Regions from separate parts of the Homo sapiens genome. Here regions 1, 2 and 3 are each linked to region 4. Evidence: fine-mapped expression QTL. A gene starts in region 4. Each other region holds a variant in brackets. All regions are shown on one strand. Distances are between the middles of the regions. Region 1 holds the start of LOC107984889 (a long non-coding RNA gene). Region 2 holds the start of LOC105371291 (a long non-coding RNA gene). Region 3 overlaps LOC105371291 (a long non-coding RNA gene). Region 4 holds the start of ADGRG1 (adhesion G protein-coupled receptor G1).

Evidence for each region.
Region 1: its variant is fine-mapped to the expression of ADGRG1 in whole blood (TOPMed, PIP 0.98).
Region 2: its variant is fine-mapped to the expression of ADGRG1 in whole blood (INTERVAL, PIP above 0.99).
Region 3: its variant is fine-mapped to the expression of ADGRG1 in whole blood (INTERVAL, PIP above 0.99).

What each region holds. Positions count from the first base shown.
Region 1 is chr16:57,592,383-57,597,656 of GRCh38, reverse strand. The region is part of intron 1 of LOC105371291 (a long non-coding RNA gene); the gene reads left to right. It overlaps LOC107984889 (a long non-coding RNA gene), which reads right to left and starts at 2,302. Exons shown (of 2, transcript XR_001752212.2): 1 at 2,183-2,302; 2 at 1-164. RefSeq lists an enhancer at 4,666-4,745. The variant C/T (reference allele first, on the strand shown) is at 2,742.
Region 2 is chr16:57,605,064-57,610,063 of GRCh38, reverse strand. It overlaps LOC105371291 (a long non-coding RNA gene), which reads left to right and starts at 3,042. Exons shown (of 4, transcript XR_933627.4): 1 at 3,042-3,336. It also overlaps the pseudogene HMGB3P32. RefSeq lists an enhancer at 118-217. The variant G/TG (reference allele first, on the strand shown) is at 2,344.
Region 3 is chr16:57,579,066-57,585,113 of GRCh38, reverse strand. The region is part of intron 1 of LOC105371291 (a long non-coding RNA gene); the gene reads left to right. Among named protein-coding and RNA genes, the nearest start is that of ADGRG5, 39 kb to the right of the region's middle. The variant C/A (reference allele first, on the strand shown) is at 2,843.
Region 4 is chr16:57,624,989-57,631,245 of GRCh38, reverse strand. It overlaps ADGRG1 (adhesion G protein-coupled receptor G1), which reads right to left and starts at 2,616. Exons shown (of 14, transcript NM_201525.4): 1 at 2,444-2,616. RefSeq lists enhancers at 1-155, 2,124-2,779, 2,780-3,435 and a silencer at 2,505-2,574.

The DNA of each region.
Region 1 (5,274 bases), 33 kb after region 4:
AAAAGAATAGTAAATTCAACCCCCCCCCAAAAAAAGTATACGGAAGACCAAAGCACAAGCTAATAAAATAGTAAGCATACAATTAAGAAAATGAACAAAAATCAAAATTGGATCTTTGAAGAGATTAGTAAAATTGGCAAACCTCTGGAGAAATAACGAAGACACTAGAAAAGAAAAGCACAAATAACCTATGTCAGATAGAAAAAGGAGAACATTATTATGACCATAATTATATAAAAAGATAATATTGTGAACAACTTTATGCCAATAAATTTAAATTTTATAAAAAGCCTTAGAAAAGCATTGCTTACCTAAATTGACATAAGTAGAAATAGAAATTCTGAGCAGTCCTAGACATAGAATTTGTATTTATACTCAAAAATCTTCCCACAGTGAAAACTTAAGGCCAGGCAGTTCCACTGGCAAGTTATACCAAACATTCTAGGAATAAATAATAATTCCAAGTTGGCCCCAAACTCTTATGAAGACTCAAACTTGTTTTATGAGGCTGGCATACTCTTGACACCAAAACCCAACTAGACAGTATGAGAAAGAAAAATTACAGGCTACTCTTTCTCAAGAACATAGATGCAAAAATTCTTTTAAAAAATTAGTAAACTAAATCCAGTAACATATAAAAGGATAATGTTAGGTTTAACAAATGCAATACATATTTTACATTACCAAAAAAAGTAATGTAATTCATGACATTAAAAGATCAAAGTAGAAAATTCTAATAATGATCGCAATATATGCAAAGAGATGTTTGACAAAATTCAACATTCATTCATGATTTTAAAACAAACAAAAACCCTTAGCAAACTGGAAACAGAAGGGAACTCCCTAAATCTGATAATATCTGATCTAATATACAGGTATATGAAACACTACAACAGATAGTATACTTTCAGGTGAAACTGTTAAAAACTTTTCCTTGGAGATTGGCAACAAGATAAGGAAGCTCACTATTACCACAGCTGTTAAACTCTTGTTCTGTAAGACCTGGCCTGTGTACCAAGGAAAATAAATAAAATAAAACATACAAGGATTGGAAAGATAAAAATGAACTTTATCATTCACGGATGATATGACGAGTATATGAAAAATGCAAAGCGATCCACAGATAAACTATTATATTCAATGAGAGAGTTTAGCGAGGTTGCTGAATACAAAAATCAATATTAAAACTTCATTGTGAGGCCAGACATAGTGGCTCATATCTGCAGTCTCAGCACTTTGGGAGGCTGAGGCAGGTGGATCACTTGAAGCCAGGAGTTCAAGACCAGCCTGGCCAGCATGGTGAAACAGCATCTCTACTAAAAATACAAAAATTAGCTGAGCATGGTGGCATGTGCCTGTAATCCCAACTACTCAGGAGGCTGAGGCACAAGAATCACTTGAACCTGGGAGGCAGAGGTTGCAGTAAGTCAAGATGGCACCACTGCACTCCAGCCTGGGCAACAGAGTGAGACTGCATCTCAAAAAAAAATAACAATTATGTAAAATTATATAGTAGCCATAAGAATCAGGAAATGAAGATTTTTAAAAAATCACTGCAATAGGCAGCCTCTAAGGAAGTCTCCCAGTGAACCCTACCTCCTGGTATTCACACCTTTGGGTAATCTCATCTTCTTGTATGGGCTGGATTTAGTGCCTCACTTCTAATGAATAGAATATGGCAGAAATAATGGGATGTCTCTTCTGATATTAGGTTATAAAGAGTGTGGCTTCCATCTTGAATACTATCTCTCTCTCTCTCTCTCTCTCTGATACTATCTCTCTCTCTCAGATCACTTGCTCTGGGTGAAGCTAGCTGCCATGTCATGAGGCAGCCCTGTGGATCACCTCCACAGTCAGGCCCTCAGATGAGACCTCAGCCCTGTCCTCCAACTTGACTGAAACCTCATAAGAGACCTTGAGCCATTGCCACTTAGCTAGGCTACCCCTGGATTCCTGGCCCACAAAAATGGGGAGATAAATTTTGTTGTTTTAGCCACTGAGTGTTGGAGTGATTTGTTACATGGCCATGATAACTAATATGACCATCATTTATAATACTTCAAAATATATCAAGTACTGAGAAATAAATCTAACTAGAAATGTGCAAAACCCAGATAAAATTCTAAAACTTAATTGAGAACTAATTTAAGACATGCAGAAATATACAAGATAGGGCACTCACCAGCAGTCTAATACACATGTGGCTGCCTGGTTTATGACAGAGGTGACATTTCTGAATATTGAAGGAAGAGTTGACTTTTCAATAAATGGTGCTAGAACAGTTGGGTATCCCTACGGGAAAAAAAATGAAATTTGACCCTAGCACATACCAGTTACCAAAATCAATTAAAGACCTAAGGGTGAAAAGCTATTAAACTTCCAAGCCATAACATAAACTTTGGAGCAGGGAAGGATTTCTGAAAAAAAAAAAAAAAACACAAAAAAACACTAACCAGAAGTAAGAGTTTAATCAATTAGAATATATTAAACTAAAGAATGTCTGTTTGTCAAAAGACGGCAGGGAAAAAAAAGTGAAAAAGAAAACTCATAGAATGGGAGAATATATTGACAATAATATAACTGACAAAGGAATACTATTCAGAATACATAAATAGCTCCTACAAATCGACAAGGAAGAAATGAAGAGTGAGCCTGAGACAAGGACTTGGGTACAGGCAGTATATCTAGAAGGTCATGCCAGCAGCAGAGTTGGTGGGGGAGGGAGGTAGAAACCCAGTTCA[C/T]GGGCATTGTCAAGGTCACTGCTGTAGGTACTGAAGACTGGGTTCCTTTGGGACCTCCAAGACCCCTGAGAGTTCCAGGGTTGTTTCCATGAAGGTCAGGAGGCTGGGGCATTTCTCCACCATTCCAGGCTTTCCCACATGGTTGGATGAGTCCCTGGGTAGAATGTGGAAAGACTGGCTTTCTGGCAGTGGGAGGCTCCATGACATGGAGGCTGAAATCAGAGTGATGCTGGCCCCAGATGTGTCTGCTATAGAGCCAAATGACCCAATAAGAAGCTGGAAAAGCATTTGAATAGGCACTTCAAAAGAGGAAATCCAACTGGCCGATAAATACATGCCATGGAAATACAACTTAAAATAACAATGAGCCATCACGACCCACCCATGAGATTTCCCCAAATTAGCCATACGGAGTGTGGCTCTGTGGAACACTTAGGAGGGGGTGGAGGATGGCTAGGAGGGGTTGTAAATTTGTTCAACCACTTTAGAAAGCAGGCATTATCTAGTAACATTGAAGATGCTCATGACCTGTGGTTCAGACAGTCCACTTCCAGATACATAGCCTGCAGAAGTACATGCATATTTGTACCGCTACTCACCTATAAGAATGCTTATAGTAGCATTGTTGGTAACAGCCTTAACCTGCAAACATCCCAACATCCACCAGGAAATTAATGGATTAATAAATCATAGTATGTTCACATATTGGAATAGTATACAGCATTGAAAAGGAACAAACTACTTCTACATACAGCAATGCAGATGAATCTTACAAACATAACATTGAGTAAAAGAAGGTGGGTTTCATTCATGTAATCTTCCAAAATAAGCAAAACTAAAACTGTATTGTTTTAAAACTAAAACTAAAGAGCTAAAACTGTATTGTTTAAAACTGTACAGGTGGTAAAACCATAAATAAAAGTGAGAGAGAGATTCCTCTAAGTGTCGGGATAACGTTTCCCTCTCCAGCACAGTGAGGTTGTGATGGAGGATTGGCGGTGGGGGTTTCTGGGGTGGTGGCAATGTTCTCTTTCTTTACCAGGGTTGTAGTTACACAGGGATTTGCTTTATCATTTTTGTTAAACTATGGGCATATCCTGTGTATTCTCCATTTTTTAATGCTTAAATGTTTACCATTTTTTAATGCTTAAAAATAAATAACTAGGCCAGGCATGGTGGTTCACACATATAATCCTTATGCTTTTGGAGGCTGCAGCAGGAGGGTCACTTGAAGCCAGGAGTTCAAGACCACCCTAGGCAATGAAGCAAGACCCCCATCTCTACAGAAAAATTTAAAAATAGCTGGGCATTGTGGTGCACACCGGTAGTTGCAGCTACTCAGGAGGTTGAGATGGGAAGATCACTTGAGCCAAGGAGTTTGAGGCTGCAGTGAGCTTTGATTGTGCCACTGCATTCCAGCCTAGGCAACAGAGTAGATCCTGTCTCTGAAAATCCACCAATCTATCAATCAAACCGAGCCACACACATCACCAATTCTCTTCCCTCCGTTGGGTTCCCCATCTTAGTTACAGACAGGCCACCCCAACTACCCAAGAGTCCAAGACATCAGCCTTGATGATGCTCCAACCTCACCCTCACCCTCACCTGACCTGCAGTGTGGGTTCTACCTCCCAGCACCTCCCAGAGCCTCGCCCCTCCCTTTATTCCTGCTGGCAGCATGACCCAGGTGTGGTGGCTCATCATCACCTGCTGCTGATGCCCAAGCACAATCTAGGACAGCTACTCCTCCCTGGATGCCACTCCAACCTGCCTCCACCCCCTGCCAGAGTGATCTTCTTGAAACACCACTTGGATCAGGAACTCCCCTGGTCAAAGAGCTTCAGTATCTCCCTACTTCCCGAGCACCATAATTGGCTCTTCCTTATTTTTCTGGTTTCTCTCCAGCTCCTCCCACCGCCACTCTGCTCACCAAGCCCACTCTCCTGCATTCTCTCTCTACCCCCACCACACCCAACCCCAAGCCTGTGCCACTTCCCCTCCCTTTTCTCCTGCCTAACCCTGTTCAACACTGTGGTCTTGGTGTAGAAGTCACCTCCCACAGGAAACCCTCCTGCCCTGCACCACCCGGGCCAGGCTGGGTGACACCTCTCTCCCCACTCTAACATCTGCTAGCGGAAGCAGCCAAGCCCACAGGCTCCAGGCACTCCAGAGAGGTCTGTGTTCTTGCAGCCTGGGTTCCTGGGTAAGGGAACAAATGCAGGGCCTGTCTGAGACCAGAGGCTCCCACTGTGCCAGGCACAGCCTGAAAGCAGGTCTGGCGTGCTTCTGAGAAGCAGGCTTCTCAGCCTTAGCAAAGCTTTCCCTGGACCAAGCCTGGAGGGTGTAGAGAACCACGTTGAGACCACGGAGTCTAACCCCAGGCCCTTCCCCCGTTTTCCTTCCAGGAGCAAGCAACCTAAGCCACCCAGATTTTTGTTTAACCCAATGGCCTTCTCCATAAAGGACGAGTTGAATTTCCTACCCATGCAGGGGATGAGAGGCCTTGGAGTCTAATGTGACATAAAAATTAATA
Region 2 (5,000 bases), 21 kb after region 4:
GCGGGGCTTATTGCCAGCACTTAAGCAGTGCTTTTAGGAAGCCGAGCCAACTGATAGCATTGTGCGTGCCTTTTTTTTTTTCCATTTTAGAATTGTTTCCATTATAGCTGTTCTAATGTTATTTGTGCAATCAAAACAAAACCAAATCAAACCCACAAGTATCTAGGTACATAATGTATATAAATAGAATCTGAAACCAAATGTTGGACTGTAGTGGGGGTGCATAGGGCTGCTCCCCAGCTGTCACAGCTGGCCCCAAAGCACGCCATACTCGGAGGCATAGCTTTAGAAGAGCTGACAGGAGACGCAGTGGTGCCTCCCTGAGGTTACGCCAAGTCATGCCAGAACTAACACCCGAGCAGGCAGCTCTGGCTGCTGAAGAAAGAGAGGGCAGGTGGGCGCAGCTCCTAAGACAGAGAAGGTGTTTTTGTTTCCGGCACAGCCCGACACAGAATGGCTCAGGTCCACCTCTGCAGCTTGACACAGATTCTATTTGCCATGCAGACTGATCTCAGCAATTTGGGGCTGCTGTGGCCCCACAGGGAGGAAACCGAGCTGCATCGCACAGAAGGGTCAGCCACATCCCCCAGTTGCATGGGGATAAAGCCCTCTGCTTTTCCACTTGTCTCTGAATTCCTGTCCCAGGAATTAGGATTTCTTGTGCAGGCTGGAATGAGCAAAATACTTAGGGTGTAACATTTAAGGAGGTGCCCACCGTCAGTGCCAATGGCCCTGCACCTCACTTTAATCTTCATGTGATTCTATTAGGCAATCTCTATTATTATCCCATTTCGTTGTCCAAAAAAGGAAAAAAAAAAAAAAAAGAAAGGAAGAAAAAAAGAAAAAGAATAAGGCTCAGAGAGCTGATGTTACTTGCCCTGAAAAGTGACAGAGCCAAAATTCAAACCCAGACCCATCAGATTCCAGCACCTAATGGCTTAACCATTGGGCCATCCTTTCTCCTGAGTACATGGGCACCCAGGTGATCCTCAAGTGACCAGTGCGGCAGAAAATACGCTGAGGCTGAGTGTGCAGGCGGCAGCTGCAGTCCCAGCTCTGTCCAGGCTCACCGGGTGACCTTGGGCAAGTCTCTTTTTTTCTCTGTGCCTCAATTTCCTTGTTTATAGAAGCTGGTGGCTATGCTGGGCCAAGAGTCACAAACTACAGTGCCCACAGCGGCCAGGCTGCAAAGCTAATGAGAGCAGGAAGGGGGCAGGGTGGGAGACAATAGGGAGTGGGGGGACCTGGGGTGAACTGGAGAGTATGGGCCACGCTGGGGAGCACTGCCCAGCTCCAGTGAACTGTCACTTGAGGAAATATGAGCCCCATGTGGCCTGATCCTTCAGTTTTTTCAAGGAAGCCAGAAATTTGAAATTAATGTGAAAATCTTAATTGTTATAAGTTGGGGATGAATTCAAATGGATTTAAAGCCTGTCATAAGCCAAACAAAGCCTATCTAAGGCTAGATCTCACCCTCGGGGCCTCCAGCAAGCAACCTCTAGATTCCATGTCAGAAGCTGTAAGTGTTCCTCAATATCCACCTCCCCTTTCTATACCAATAGAACCCCATATTTTCGCTGGGTTCATGGCCCCCTACAATAAAGACATTATTACCTAACATTCCTTGGAACTGGGTGGCCACATGACCAAGTTCTGAACAATAGGATGCAGCCATCAGTAAAGTCTGCAAATCTTGCATCATGCTCTTAAAAAAAAAAAAAGAGGTGCACCCTTTTGGAGGAGCAAAAAGGGAAGGGGTATGAGTGCCCAAAGTCCAGGAGCCACCACAGCCACCGTGCAGCCTGGTCCCTCGCATGGGATGGAAGTAAACGGCTTCTTGTTTATATGGGTTCTTACTCTTGAGTTTGTTACAGCAGCCAAAGTCATAACCTACCTAGCACAGGCTCTTTCAGGGATCTTCCTCAGGGCTCATAATTTTAAAGCCAGAAGGCTCCCACAATCCTCAATTCCCACCCCCATTCCTGACCATATACCTATTTTACAGATGGGGAGACCAAGGTTCAGAAAGGTGGAGAGTCTGTAACTTAATGAGTGAACAGCCTCTCTAAATGCAGACACAGCATAAATAGGACCCTTCTTCTACCCCAAATAAAGCTGCCAGGAGCTCATGTCTGGGAAAAGGGACTACAAGGGTGGGGACGGTGCCACCCGCATCCTCTCAGGGGCCACCGTGTGCTAGGCAAAGCCTTTCTTCACTGCTAGGGGCCCCTACAAGTCCCAGGCTTGCACCCCAACCCCGTGTTTCTTTGTTGTCTGCCCCCAGCCCGCAAGCCCATGTCTCTCTGGGCTGAAGAGGCCTTCAGGACATCCTTTTTTTTTTTT[G/TG]AGATGGAGTCTCGCTCTGTCACCCAGGCTGGAGCGCAATGGTGCCATCTCAGCTCACTGCAACCTCCGCTTCCCAAGTTCCAGTGATTCTCCTGCCTCAGCTTCCCGAGTAGCTGGGATTACAGGCATGCGCCACCACGCCTGGCTAATTTTTGTATTTTCAGTAGAGACAGGGTTTCACCATGTTGACCATGCTGGTCTCAAACTCCTGACCTGAAGTGATCCGCCCGCCTATTCCTCCCAAAGTGCTGGGATAACAGGCATGAGCCACCATGCCTGGCCAGCACTGGTAATTTTTTAAAGCTCCTTCTACCCCTATACACCCCCACCCCCACACCCGCCCGATGGCCCCAGGCGACTGCAGGGTTGGGGCATGTGAGTCTGGTGGTTTCGCCCTAAGGGTCCTGGGTATCTGGTGCTCGGCACTTTGCCAGTCTCAGCCACTGGCTCAGCCTTTCCCCTGGAGATATAGAGGCTATGGGGGCAGTGATCTGGAAGGCCAGCTGTGTAGAAGTCCCTGAGGGTCAAAGTCTAGGTCTGGCAGTGTTGGAGAATAAAACCCTTGGCTGGCCAAACACTGGGAGGCTGCACCTGCTGCTCTGCAAATATGCCTGCCCCTGCCTGAGCAGGAGGCCTCAGCCAGCCCTCAGCAGGAACCCAGCCAGGGCCACCCACCCCAGCCATGCTAAGCCTCTGCCAGAGTGAGAGAGGCCCGCGTGGGCCAGGGGTGGCACAAGAGTCACTCTCAGGGTGGGCCAAAGGGTATCACAGAGACAGCCCGGCCCTGGAGCCATGCAGACCAGGAGCCGGGTGCCACCTCCAACACCAACTCACAGTGACTTTGGGCAAGTCCTTTTTTTGTCTTGAACCTCAGTGGGCCTAGTCTTGGCAACTGTGCAGTCGAGTGTCCAGCCCAGGGTCTAGACCAGAGCCAGTGGCAGCAAACAGCCCTGTTATCAAGAAGCAACATAACAAGAAGAAAGGAGAAAAAAGGTAAGCTGATTTTTCCTTTTCTGAGTGTTTGCAGAAGTCAACAGATAATGTCCAAGGTTAATAAATCAGGAAATGGCAGTAGAAGCATGTTATTTATGGCTCTGGAGGTAACTGCCACATGAGCTCGAACTATTAGAAGTGGTTGCCTCTGGGGAGGGGGCTTGCAGGAAATGGGCTTTTCACTATAAGTCCTTTTTACCAGTTCGTGTTTTTTAATGTCTATTTAGAAGTATTTATTAAAAAGTGACTCTGCCCCTCCACTCTTGATTTTCCAGGTCATCCCTGTTAACAGAAGTATTTTTGGCCTATAAGGCCATGTATAGGGTTAAGTGCTCAGACTGTGGAGTTGGGCTGCCAGAGTTCAAATCCTTGCTCTGTAACTTACCAGCTGTGCCGCCTTGGGCAAATTACTTAACCACTCTGTTCCTGTTTTCTCATATGTAGAATGGGAGTAATAATAATTCAATGCTCCTGGTTTACACAGTAAACATTCAGTAATTGTGAGACATGATTATTATATATCCCTGTAACTCATATATGCAATTGTTTTACAAAAATAGAATTAGTATGCTATACACAGTGTTTGCAACTCGCTTTTCTTTCTCTTGCCAAGTTATAATGGATATCATTTCTGCTTAGAATGTATAGTTCCATCTCATTCTTTTTCATTAGTACAAGAATTCCATTGCATAGAATGTAAAATTATTTAGCCATAACCCTCTATTGAAGGAAATTAAGGGGTCCTATTTTTTAGTGTAATACACTTTGCAGTAATTAACATATATATTTTGGCACATGTGTGGCTATTTCTAAAGGAAAGATACCTAAAAGAGGGATTACTAGGTTATAGAATTGTGCAATTAAAAATTGTACAGATACTTGAGCCGGGGAGGTCAAGGCTGCAGTGAGCATGATGGCACCACTGCATTTCAGCCTGGGTGACAGAGCAAGACCCTGTCAAAAAAAAAAAAAAAAAGGTATAGACACTGCTAAATTGCCCCCTTAAAAAGTAGTACCAATTTAGAGTCCCACCATATCCATTCCAATGTGGAGGTGATCTCTCTAGATGGGCAAAAAATTGTTTTAGTGTGCCTATTGTAATTCTGAGTGGAACCGAGCATCTTTTCATAACTTCATCATCCATTTTTCTTTCTTCTCCTGTGAAACAAATGTTTATATCCTTTATCCAACTTAAAAAAAAGTAATACTGTTTATTTAACTTCAAAAACATTTCAGCATTCTAAACATACAAAAAAAATAACAGAATGTTGCAAATCGTGTTTAAGGACAGAAGGTTCCTGAATTTTCATTGCAGTGACTCTTTGCTTTAGTGACAATGAAGAGTTCTACAGTTTAAAAACCACCACACTTAACTAAAAAACAAAACAAAAACTAAACACTTCTCATGCCAGCTGACCCCCCCATCTTTGCCTTTAGCTAAGAATGGCAGCAGAAAGCTGTCACCACATACAGAAACAAGACAACTTGAAGCTAAATGAATGCCCACTGCACAGTGAACCGGTCCAGCGTCACGGTGCATGCCCTCAGCTATGGCCCCTCCAAAAGGCACCTTCCCCACAGCCTCAATGCCAGACAAGAAGCATCAAGAGCTTGCCTCAGTTGTTTTATTCTTTTTACAAACTATGGACATATACAGTTGATAA
Region 3 (6,048 bases), 46 kb after region 4:
TTTATAATTAAAGATGTTGAGCATCTTTTCATGTGCTTCTTTTCCATTCATATCCCTTCACTGGTGACAGGTCTGTTCAAGCCTTTTGTCCATCTTTTATTTGATTATATTTTTTTTAGTTGTAAGAGTTCTTTTTTCCTTTTTTTTTTTCTGAGACAGAGTTTCGCTCTTGTCGCCCAGGCTGGAGTGCAGTGGCACGATCTGGTGCACTACAACCTCTGCCTCCCGGGTTCAAGCGATTCTCCTTCCTCAGCCTCCCAAGTAGCTGGGATTACTGGCATGCACCACCACACCTGGCTAATTTTTGTATTTTTAGTAGAGATGGGATTTCACCATGTTGGCCAGGCTGGTCTTGAACTCCTGACCTCAGGTGATCTGCCCACCTCAGCCTCCCAAAGTGCTAGGATTACAGGTGTGAGCCACCGCACCTGGCATGTGAGTTCTTATTTATTCTGGATATAAGTCCTTTGTCAGATATGTATTTTTGCAAAGCTTTTCTTCTAGTTTTTTGTTTTATTTCTCCTTAAGAGTGTCTTCTGAAAAGCAGAGGTGAGGTCTAGTTTATCTATTTTTTATAAATAGGTCTGGTTTCTCTATGAATGAAGTCTAGTTTATCTATTTTTGCCTGCTTTTGTGTCCTAAGATTTGTTTGTCTAACCACAGTCACAGTGATTTTTGCCTATGTTTTCTTCTAGAGGTATTATAGCTTTGTACTTTATGTTTAGATCTATGATTCGTTTAATTTTTGTCCATGGTATGAGATATGGGTCGAGGTTCATATTGTTTGCGTATAGACGCTTATTTGTTCCAGTACCATTTGTTGAAAAGATTATCCTTTACCTCCATTAAATTGCCTTTGTGCCTTTGTGGGGAAAAAAGTCTGTTGTGATTTTGCTTGGGATATCATTGAATCTCCCCAGTTTAGGGAATCCTTTCAACTTAACAATATTGAGTCTTCCAATTCATAGATATGGCATAACTCTCCAATTATGTAGAGTTTTAAAAACTTCTTTCAATTTTTGCCTCATACTTTTTTTTTTTTTTTTTTTTTTTTTTAGACAGAGTCTCACTCTGTCACCCAGGCTGGAGTACAATGGTGTGATCTCAGCTCACTGCAACCTCCACCTCCCGGGTTCACACCATTTTCCTGCCTCAGCCTCCTGAGTATCTGGGACTACAGGCACGTGCCACCATGCCCGGCTAATTTTTTGTATTTTTAGTAGAGACAGGGTTTCACCATTCAGCCAGGATGGTCTTGATCTCCTGACCTCGTGATCTGCCCACCTCAGCCTCCCAAAGTGCTGGGATTACAGGCGTGAGCCACCACGCCCGGCCCAATTTTTGCCTTATACCTTTTAAGGCTACTTTATTATATCTTCTTGGTGAATTAAACACTGTATCATTATGTTGTGATCATCTCTATTAGTGCATTGTGCTTTAAAACATATTTTGTTTTATATCAAAATTGCTACACAGTCTCTCATTTGGTTATTTTTTCCTTCACATATCTTGATTCATCTTTTTTTTTCTTCTTCTTTTTTTGAGACAGTCTTACTGTGTTGCCCAGGCTGGAGTGCAGTGGTATGATCACAGCTCATTGCTGCCTTCACTTCCAGGGCTCAAGTGATCCTCCTGCCTCAGCCTCCAAAGTGGCTGGGACTACAGGTGCATACCACTAAGCATTGCTGATTTTCAAATTTTTTTTTTTTTTTTTTTAGAAATGAGGTCTCACTGTGTTACCCAGGCTGGTCATGAATGCCTAGGCTCAAGCGATCCTCCTTCCTCAACCTCCCAAAGTGTTGGGATTATAGGTGTGAGCCACTACACCCAGCCTTGATTCATCTTTTTACTTTCAACATTTCCATGTCCTTTTACTTGAGCTGCGTTTCTTATGAATGGCATATACCTGGGTTTTGTTTTTGCATTCAATCTTAATATCTCCTGCCTTTTAACTGATCCATTTAGTCCATTTATATTTATTATAATTATAGATATATTTGGGTATGTTTGTATTATCTTACTTTTGGATTTCTATTAGTTCCACTTTTTGTTTCTTTTTCTTTGAGTTTTATTTGATTGTTTTATCTACCCCACTTTTTTCTCTCTACTGGAATAAAATGTCTACATTCCAGTTTTATTTTTTTTTTCAGTTGTTGCCCTTGAAATTGCTTTTTTTGAGCTAAAGGCAATTAAACCCTTGAAGTTTTACCACGTGTATTTAATTAATGATATCTCATATTAAACAATATCTTAACACCCTCCCTACCCCTCCGCACAAATGCTAGCTAACACTTTAGGACACTGTAACTCCAGTCTTACTTTTCCTGATTTATACACTATTATTCTCCAACATTTCACATTCCTTCTTCTTAATATCACAAATAAAATTATTATTTTATACAGATGATTTTTGGATTGGCTTTAGCTACACTTAACTATTTTTTAAATTTATTTATTTTTGAGACACGGTCTCACTCTGTCACCCAGGCTGGAGAGCAGTGGCACAATCACCGCTCCCTGTAGCCTTGACCTCCCTGGGCTCAGGTGACCCTACCATCTCAGCCTCCCAAGTCGCCTGGACTACAGGTGTACACCACCATGCCTGGCTAATTTTTGTATTTTTAGTAGAGACGAGGTTTTACCATGTTGCCCAGGCTGGTCTTGAACTCCTGGACTCATGCTCTCCTCTCACCTTGGTCCCCCAAAGTGCTGGGATTATGGGTGTGAGCCACTGTACCCAGCCTTTTACCATTTTCTAACCTCACCATTCCTTCTTCTTGCATCTTAGGCTGACCTGGAATCATCTTCCTTCTTGAGGTACATCCTTCGGGAGTTTCTTTGG[C/A]TCATTCTCAGCTTTTATTTACCTGTAAATGTTAAATGTATTTTTTTCCTTTTTGTCTTGGTTCCTGAATGGTAGCTTTATTACAGTAGGTAGCTAGTTAGGTATGAGCAGGGCAGGAAAGGACTTCCCCCCAACACACACACACACACACACACACACACACACACACACACACACACACACACACACTAGGAGTGCTGGGTGACCATCAGGTGGTGGTCAAGTGGTTGTTAACTGTTTCTGTTTAGTAATTGGTCACAGCCAGTACGGGGGAAAGGCAGTCTCCTAATAGAAAACACCTGCAACTGATCAGCAGCTTCCCAGTAAGATCTCCGGAGTGGGAAGCAGCTTACTTCCAAGATCCTGGAAGTATGCCAAGGTATCAAACCCCAAGTCAAGAGGCCAAGCTGCGCACTCGGTTTCTCAGGTCAACCACTTGGCCTTCTTCCACATTGTACTTTTCTTCTCCTTCCTTTCCTTACTGTTCTAAAGCTCTTTGTTTTGTTTTGTTTATTGAGACAGAGTCTCGCTCTGTTGCCCAGGCTGGATGGAGTGCAGTGGCGCCATCTCTGCTCGCTGCAACCTCTGCCTCCTGGGTTCAAGCAATTCTCCTGCCTCAGCCTCCCGAGTAGCTGGGATTACAGGCGCCCACCACCAGGCCCAGCTAATTTTTGTGTTTTTACTAGTAGAGATGGGGTTTCACCATGTTTGGCCAGGGGGGTCTCAAACTCCTGACCTCAAGTGATCCACCCGCCTTGGCCTCCCAAAGTGCTGGAATTACAGGCGTGAGCCACTGCTCCCGGCCCTAAAGCTTTTCAATAAACTTTGACTCCTGCTCTGAAACTTACCTCAGTCTCTCCTTCTGCCTTATACCCCTCAGTCAAACTCTTTCTTCTGAGGAGGCAAGAGGTTGCTGCAGATCCAGACGGATTCACCAACGGTAACTCGGATACCTTCCACCAGTAACAGTTTTGCTGGACACTTCTTTTTTTTTTTTTTTTTTTTTCAGACGGAGTTTTGCTCTTGTCGCCCAGGCTGGAGTGCAGTGGCGCAATCTTGGCTCACTGCAACCTCTGCCTCCCAGGTTCAAGCGATTCTCCTGCCTCAGCCTCCCAAGTAGCTGGGATTACAGGCGTGCACCACCACACCTGGCTAATTTTGTATTTTTAGTAAAGACGGGGTTTCGTCATGTTGGCCAGGCTGGTCTCAAACTCTTGACCTCAGGTGATCTGCCCACCTCGGCCTCCGAAAGTGCTGGGATTACAAGCGTGAACCACAGCACCTGGCCCCTGCTGGACACACTTCTAAGTGGACATTTATTTGCTGTCATCACTTTAAAGCTATTACTGCTGCCTCCTAGCTTCTGTCACGGTGGTTGAGGAGCCAGCTCACGTTCTGTGGTCGTTGGTAGGCAATCTGTCCTTTCTCTTTGCCTGCTTTCATCGTTTCTCTCCCTCTGACATTCTGTAGTTTCAATAAAATGTGTATAAGCATGGATTTATGTATTATGCTTGAGATATTTCGTGTTTCCTGGTTCTGAGACTGTGTTTTTCCATCGCTTCTGGAAAACCTGCAGCCATTTCATCTTCAAATACCACCTCTTTCCCATTCCCTTTATTTTCTTCTTTTGGGACTCCAATATATAAGATCTTCTCATTCTTATTCTCTATATCTCTTAATCTCTTTTCATGTTATCCATCTTCTTATCTCTGTTGCATGCTTTATGTATATAAGTCCAGGCTTATTAATTGTCTCTCTCTCTCTTTTTTTTTTTTTTCTGTTGTTGTTGTTAAGACAAGGCCTGGCCCTATCACCCAGGCTGGGGTGCAGTGGTGCAATCTCGGCTCACTGCAAACTCTGCCTCCCAGGCTCAAACCATCCTCCCACCTTAGCTTCCTGAGTAGCTGGGACTACAGGCACATGCCACCACGCTGGGCTAATTAATTCTCTATTCAACTGTTTGTTTGTTGAATTTTAGATTTTGAGAGTTTTTTATGTTTTTTTTTTTAGTAGAGACAAGGTCTTGCTCTGCCACTCAGGCTTGAGTGCAGTGGAGTGACTACGGCTCACTGCAGCCGCAAACGCCTGGGCTCAAGCAATCCTCCCGCCTCAGCCTCCCAAGTAGCTGGAACTACAGGTGTGCCCCACCATGCCTGGCTAATTTTTTTGATTTTTATAGAGACAGGGGTCTTGCTATGTTGCCCAGGGTGGTCTCAAACTCCTGGCCTCAAGTGATCCTCCCGCCTCAGCCTCTTGAGTCACTAGGATTAAAGGCATGAGCCACCACATCCAACTTGAGATAATACTTTTTATTTCTTGAAGTTCCATTTGTTTTCCCCCAAATCTCTCTGTCTCTCTTCATTTCTATTCGTTTATATGCTCATCTTTGCGATTGCATCTTGTGTTTCTTTAAACGTGTCATATATGGCTATTCTGTATTCCGTCCCTGGGGTCTAAAATCTGTTGCTTCCTTCTTTTCTGCCGACTCTCACTCGGTGGCTTACTTTGTGATTTGGGTAAGTTTTATATTGAAGCCCATTGCTTCGTCTCACTCTGGGCATCCTCCTGGCCTAACCAAGGGAAGCTTACCTCCATATTGAGTTTGCTTCTCTCTTGCCAGTAGCAGGGGGCACCCCAACCCAGGACCACCTCAGCCCCCTCAGAGAGTTTTATCTCAGAGGTGGTTCAACTTCCCATCTTCCCCACCCCTAGCTCTTCCAAAGTTCACTATCAAGAAATGGAAAAATTGCTATAAGACTGGCTTTGGAACCAGCCCTCCCCTCCAGGCAACCTGCCAGTTCATGCCAGCTCTCTGACACTCTCCCACGCCCCCAGCTCCAGCGCCCCTGGGTTCATTCTCCAGCTCCCTCTGCTGAAACCCAGGCTCTTGGCCACTCTACTCCCTCACCCTCCTCAATTTTTCTTCTCAGCACTTGTCGCCACCTGTCATATCTTATGTCTATTTGTTAAACTGTTTAGTGTGAGACATTCCTCCCCCACAAGAATGTGATGACTTGTTCATTTATATATCCTCAGCAACTAGTACAGTGCCTGGAATATAACAAGTGTTTAACAATTACATGATGGGTGAATGAATGAGCCAATGAGACACAGCACCTGTCTCCAAAATGCCCTCGGTCTGGCAGCTGAGACAGATGGGGACAGTCATAATACAAAGAAATAACGTCTGTCATGGGGGAAGGGCG
Region 4 (6,257 bases):
TGCCAGGAGGCCAACCCCTACACCAACCCTGCTGCAGCTCTGCCACCTCTCTCCTGTCCTTCCCCTCGACTGGGCGCCACCTCCCCCTCGTCTCCCTCACACGTGAAGCTGCTCCCAAGCTTGAGCCTTAACCCAGCAGCCAGAGACTGGGACTGCCTGGCCAACCTCACACTGAACACCCATCCTGGCCCTCCCCGTCCTGCTGGGTTTGCAGCCTGGGCCCCCAGCCCCACACAGCACCTGCCTGGCGAGTCCTCCTGCCTCTCTTCCCCCCCACAGAGCAGATTGAGACCTGCTGGCCTGGCTCATCAAGTCCCATGAAATGACCCATGCCAGGGGTCCGGTATCACCCTCCCCGTGGTCCCCAGCTTGTATCGTTCCCCAAATGTTTTCCTAAGTAGTTTCCTCCACTAGGACTCCCCCTACAGTGCTCATACAGACATCAGTCCCTTCCCCTCCCACCTTCTCCCAAGCCCAGCCTAAGTGCCTTCCGCAGAGGCTCCCTGGTCCTCTTCCCCTTCTCTGGGCCCTCTGTTAGCAAGCTTATCTCACGCCTCCATCTCACCTCCTAACTGTTGTTTGTTTGTTTGTATCCCTGACAAAAGGAAGTGTCACACCAGGCTGACTGGCCCTTGCCCAGTGGCCCAGGCCGGGACACAGCCTGTCCGTCACAGATCACACCTGGAGCGGCGTTCTCCATCACCCGACACTCTCGGAGCCAAGCCCCAGGCCTACGGGAGCCAGGGCAGCTGTGATCACCCCTACACACCCATTTAGCAGCTGAGCTCCTGAGGCGAGAGGAGAGGAAGGGCAAGGGGGCCACAGTGATGCTGTGACCAAGGTGGGTGCATATCTCGGGTCCCTGCAGCAAAGAAGGGGTCAGGTCTGGCCCTAAGAGCTCATTCCACACCTGGACATTGGCAGGAAAGAGCCCAACAGGACCCCTGCCTGGGCTCTGGGGAGCCAACTTGGCAGCCCATGGTTATTAATGCCCAGATATGCTCCTTCTCACACAGTCTCTGACCCCAAGGAGCCAACAGGCTGCCCGGGGCTATCCTCTGGGAGGGGCAGGGGGCTTGGCTCTGGGTCTGGGCCACTCACGAGTTCTGAGATACCTTATTTGCCTCACCCACGGCCATGTTCCCGACAGAGCACAGAGTGCACAGTAAGCGCTCAATAAATGCTTCTATAAATAACTTTCTTGGTCCACTGAAGGAGCAACAAAGGCTATTCCTACACAGCCCGTGGACCCCAGGCTACAACTGCTCCACATTGGTGGGGGTGGGAGGCCCCTGCCTTGACCCATCCCCTCCTCCCTACGCAGTAAAATGAACATCAGACCTCTCCCAGTGGGGCACAGGGAGACCCCAACTCTACCACGCAGGGGAGGTGGGTTGGGGACGGGGGAGGACAGGAATCATTGGTTTCCTACACACTCCCAGCCCCCGCGGGGACCAGGGTGGGAAGTCCTATCAGTGCCAGGCAGATGGAGCCCTGAGGTCTGGTGGCAACGGGCAGGGTGTTCAGCCCGCAGCCTGCGCTTCCCCGTCTGCCTGTCACCGGTTCCAGGACTCTCACCCACGTGGCCCACGTTCAGAGACCCTGCGGGGCCACCTTCTCCCAAAGCTGGCCTTGGTGATGAAGAGCACGGCTGTCCCTTGCTCAGTGGGGACCCCGGACCCAGCCCCAGGGACAGCTGCAGGAAAGCTGTCCTCAGGAGTTCCCTCAAGTGCCACCCCCTCCCTGAGCCTGGCCCCTGGCTTTCTATACCTGGATGTGCTAGGTGACCTTGGGCAAGCCACCTGCCCTCCCAGAGCCTCGGTTCTCCCATCTGTGTAGTAGGAGCACTGATCTCACAGCCTAAAGAGCAGACCCCAGCTTGCTGGGCCCAGTGACTGTACCACTCTGAGCCTCAGTTTCTCCAGCAACAAAATGCCTGGGAGCCCCGGGAGGTGTCGCTCCCCTTGGGCCCCAGTCCCCTCCCAGGCATCTCCTTGTGGGTCCGCCCCCACTCTAGAGACCCACCCACAGCCATGCTGACCTGGACTAGATCCCACCAAGATACCAAGACCCCCCCATTTCCCCATTTCACCACCATCCCTACCCACTGTCCAACAGCCACCCGTGCACGGATGCACACATCCACACTTACACTCACATACACTCCCACACTCACACTCACACTCATACTCACACACACTCACTCACACTCTCACACTCAAACGCTCAGTCACACTCTCACACTCACACTCACATTCTCACTCACTCTCACACACTCACACTCACACACTCTCACACTCTCACGCTCACACTCACACTCACACTCACTCTCACACACTCACACTCACACACTCACACTCTCACACACTCACGCTCACACACTCACACTCTCACACTCACACTATTCCCCTTCCCACCTGCTGTCCAGCCCTTGTTTGGGTACCTGCTGCCAGGTGGAGGGTCCCACGCAGGGCCAGGCGGCTGGACCACCTTTCAGGATCCACCCCCAGAGGCTTAACCTGCCAGCCCTGGTCCCCGCTGCCTGCCGAGTGAGCTGGAGAGCGTGGGAGGCTCCCAGCCCATCTCCTACGGCAGGGCAGGGCAGACAGCTAGTGCGGAGAGGGAGGGACCGGGTTTGTTTGGTGGGGAGACACCCCTCTCCTGCCCCAGCTGGGCTCCTCCCTCCTCCCTGAGCTTGACTGGGGATGACGGACGATATATGTGAGTCATGGATTTCTCAGAGGGAGACCAGGAGGGGGCAGGGCTGAGAGCGCTGAGGCAGTGATCCTGGGGGATGCCCATGACTCAGCGCCGGGCAAGGGGGCACCTCAGCCTCACCCCTCATCCAGGCAGACAGTGTTCAGGGACAGGAAGGGGCCGGGGATCACTCTGCTTCCTCAGCCTCCATCTGTCGCCTCCCAGGGCCAGTCTCCCCAAAGTTCCCACAGAGAGGCCGGGGTTGCCACGGCAACAGGGCCCTTGGATGCTGTCCGCCCACCCCCCAGGTCAGGGCGACAACTGCCCTTTCCTGAAGGAGAGTCCAGCCTCCTTGGCAGCCGACGGGAGCCAGTGCTGACCGGCAGAGCGGAAGGCAGTCGGGAGGGAGCGGGTGACAGGCAGCCGGGCAGGAGGCCAGCCAGGCCACGCACGACTGACCGGCTGACCTGCGTCCCCCCGGGGGGTGACCCGTCTCCCCTCTCAGTGCTCCTCAAGCACCCACAGTTTCAACATCCCAAGTCATTTTGGATTCTGAGACCCCAGGGGCTTCTGGAAACGGCCTCCTTTAATCCATCTGCTGAGCCAAAGGGGAAACCGAGGCCTGGGTGAAGAGCCATTCCCAGTGGCCCCAAAAGCTCAGACAGAGAAGTGTGGAAATGGACCATGCCCCATCCCCCTTCTGGTCATTCCTCTGTCAGCAGCACCTCCCGCTGCTGGGGTTCAGTGCCCTTCTCGAGTCAGGAGGCTTTGGATAACTCACACTCCCTGCAGAGGCTCCTGTCTGCCCTCCTCCTCCGAGCAATGAGGATAGATGATTCCTCAGTCAGATGTGCTGGGAGGCTTTTACAATGCCAGAAGGGTGAGTGGTGACAATAACAGTAATTACACTCGCTGACCACCGTCTGCATTCCAGCTCCAGAGCGCCCCTGGCAGTGGAGAGAAGTCAAACCTGCTACTCAGACCAGTGCCTGGTACTTGCCAAGCCCTCAATAAATACTCCCTGTGAATGTGGTGATGAAGAAGAGGGAGCTTAAGGCAGATACATGTAGCTCAGAGATGAGAATTAACCTGCCCAAGATCACACAGCAGGGAGGTGCCCGAGTTGGGATGGCGGGAGCACAGGCCGTCTGGCTCCATAGCGGGTCTCCTAACCACTCAGCAATCCAGCACCCCAGGCCTCAGCCTGGGGCCTGGACACGTGGATGCTTGGGGAACTTGAGATTCCTTCTCTCCGGTAGAGATCTGCCTTCTAAACAAGGGGGCCAGGAAAAGCTTCCCCATGCCACGTGGAGGAAGAATGAATGGAACGTCTCGGGCAGCCTAGGAGCCAGGGCTGCTGCAGGTGAACTGCACTCCTCACCTACCTGCTTGAAATCAAGCTGCAGAAAGGAAGGGCCACAAAGCCACCCCGTGGGGTGCAGGGAGGCCATAAGGTGAGAGCTTCCAGAAAACGGCACTGTGCTTCCCACATTCACAGTCCCCAGTCCAGGCTGTGGGCCAATACCTGGGGCAGGGAGGCACAGTGGGGACTGGGCCCATGTCATACCCTCTGCTCTCTCCCGGGGCTGCAGTGGGAACTCCCTTATTGCCAAAGCAGCAGAGGCCAGCCTACACTGGGGGCCCACTAACAAGGGAGGACAAGTGAGTTATCTAGGGGAGGATGGGTTGTCCCTGACATACCACCACCTCTGCCTCAGTTTCCCCAAGGTCAGTCCTTCAGGGCCTGATCAACTGGTAACCCGGGCAGCCTCAGCTGTTCCCCAGGGACCAGGCCCACAGGGCAGCTGTCCCCCCACCACCACCACCACACACACACCCCACAGAGCGTGCTGACCAGAAGGGCACAGATGGAGAGTTGAAGGCACCACTCTCTCTGCAGATGGCTGAAGAGAGTGCGGAGCCAGCTGCCACTCTGGCCACATAGGAGAGGCTTATGGGGCTGCCTGGCTGGGCGGAGTTGGCTGCCCAGCTCTGCCTGCCTCTCTCACCGTCGGACTTTGCAGAGACCTACTATGAGCTAGGGGCAGGCAGGTGAGGAAGCAGGCCCCCAGCTCTGAGTCTGGCTAGAGAGACAAGCCTGGTTCTCATAGTAGCGATACCTGGAGTTGGTATTCAGCATCCAGGGGTCTCTGGGAGTAAAGGGGGAGAAATTCAATGACTTGTTAAACACAACACTATCTGTTATGAGTGCTGATAACAGGACTAATAATCACCTGCTATGTCTGGAGGTTTTATGGTGTAAGATGCTCTGCTTGTACAGATCATTCTCATTTTATCCACACAACCCTGTGGGTTGGGTACCACTTGTATGTTAGAGATGGTCAGAGACATGAAGTAACTTAGCCAAGGTCGCACAGCTTGGACCTGGCTGGGCCTCCAGGTGTGTGGGCTGTAACCAAACACGGGACACCAGATATCCGGCCCCTGCTAGGCACTTCATCTTCTCCTTCTGTTCTCACAACAGTCTATCCCCACTTTACAGAAGGGGAACCGAGGTACAGGGAGGGCTACCCACGCCTTTCTATAACAGCCAGGATCTGAACTAAGCGTGTAGACCCCAGAGCCCCTGCTGGGACCTGAAGGAGAAGAAGGGGGCTTCGATAAACAGAGACCAGCAGGAAGGGCACCCCAGGCAGAGGGAACAGCATTGGCTGAGGTGGAGAGGTAGGGCATGGAGCCATGCTTGGAAGGAAGTGGGATCTAACTGGGCAGCAAGGGGCAGATTCTGGAAGATTTTGAAAGTGTAGAGTTTGGGCTTAAATCAAAGGTACTGGGGAGCCAGAGAAGATGTTTGGGTAGGGAGAGGCCTGATTAGCCCTCAAAATGTGGTCTTCAGACCTACAGATAGCCTGAGACCTGCTGAATCTGAATGTGTATTTTAATAAGATGCCCAGGGGATTCCAGAATTGGAGGTGTGAGAAGCCCTGGTCTAGACGCCAGGGACTTGTACCAGCAATGATGCGGAGGGATGGGCAGAGGAGTAGAGGGGAAGTTGGGTCCGGATGGGGCCTCGAAGGAGGCAGATGGGGGAAGAGCGGGGGAGGAGACTTTGGTCCAAGAGACCAGGAAAAGGGCTGGGACACCCCACCCCCCACAACCCGACAAGTGAAGGTGGGGACCGAGGAGAGGGGGAAGATGTCTGAAACGTCCCTGAAGAATCGGGGCACAGGATGGGGTGCAGATCCGGAAGGCAGAGAAGAGACTGCCCTGTGTGCAATGGAATGGGGGCAGCTCTGTGTCATGTGGGGAAGCCACAGGTCCCCCCTGCTTCCCAAGGCAGCTGGAAACACGTCGTTGGGGCTCAGCAGTGAGGGACTGGGGTCGCCAGGCCCAGAGAAGGTCATGGCATCATTGGCTGGCGACGGAGTCCAGAGATGGTGTGGGGAAAGCAGAAAGCTGAAGGTGCAGGAAACCCTTCGTTTTGAGGGACAGAGGAGAGGGGGCAATGCTGCTGCACCCTCTCTGAGCCCGGAGTCTGTGATCACAGACTCTGGGTTCAGGCCAGCTGGCCTCTACTCCCAGCCGGCCAGCTGGATGAC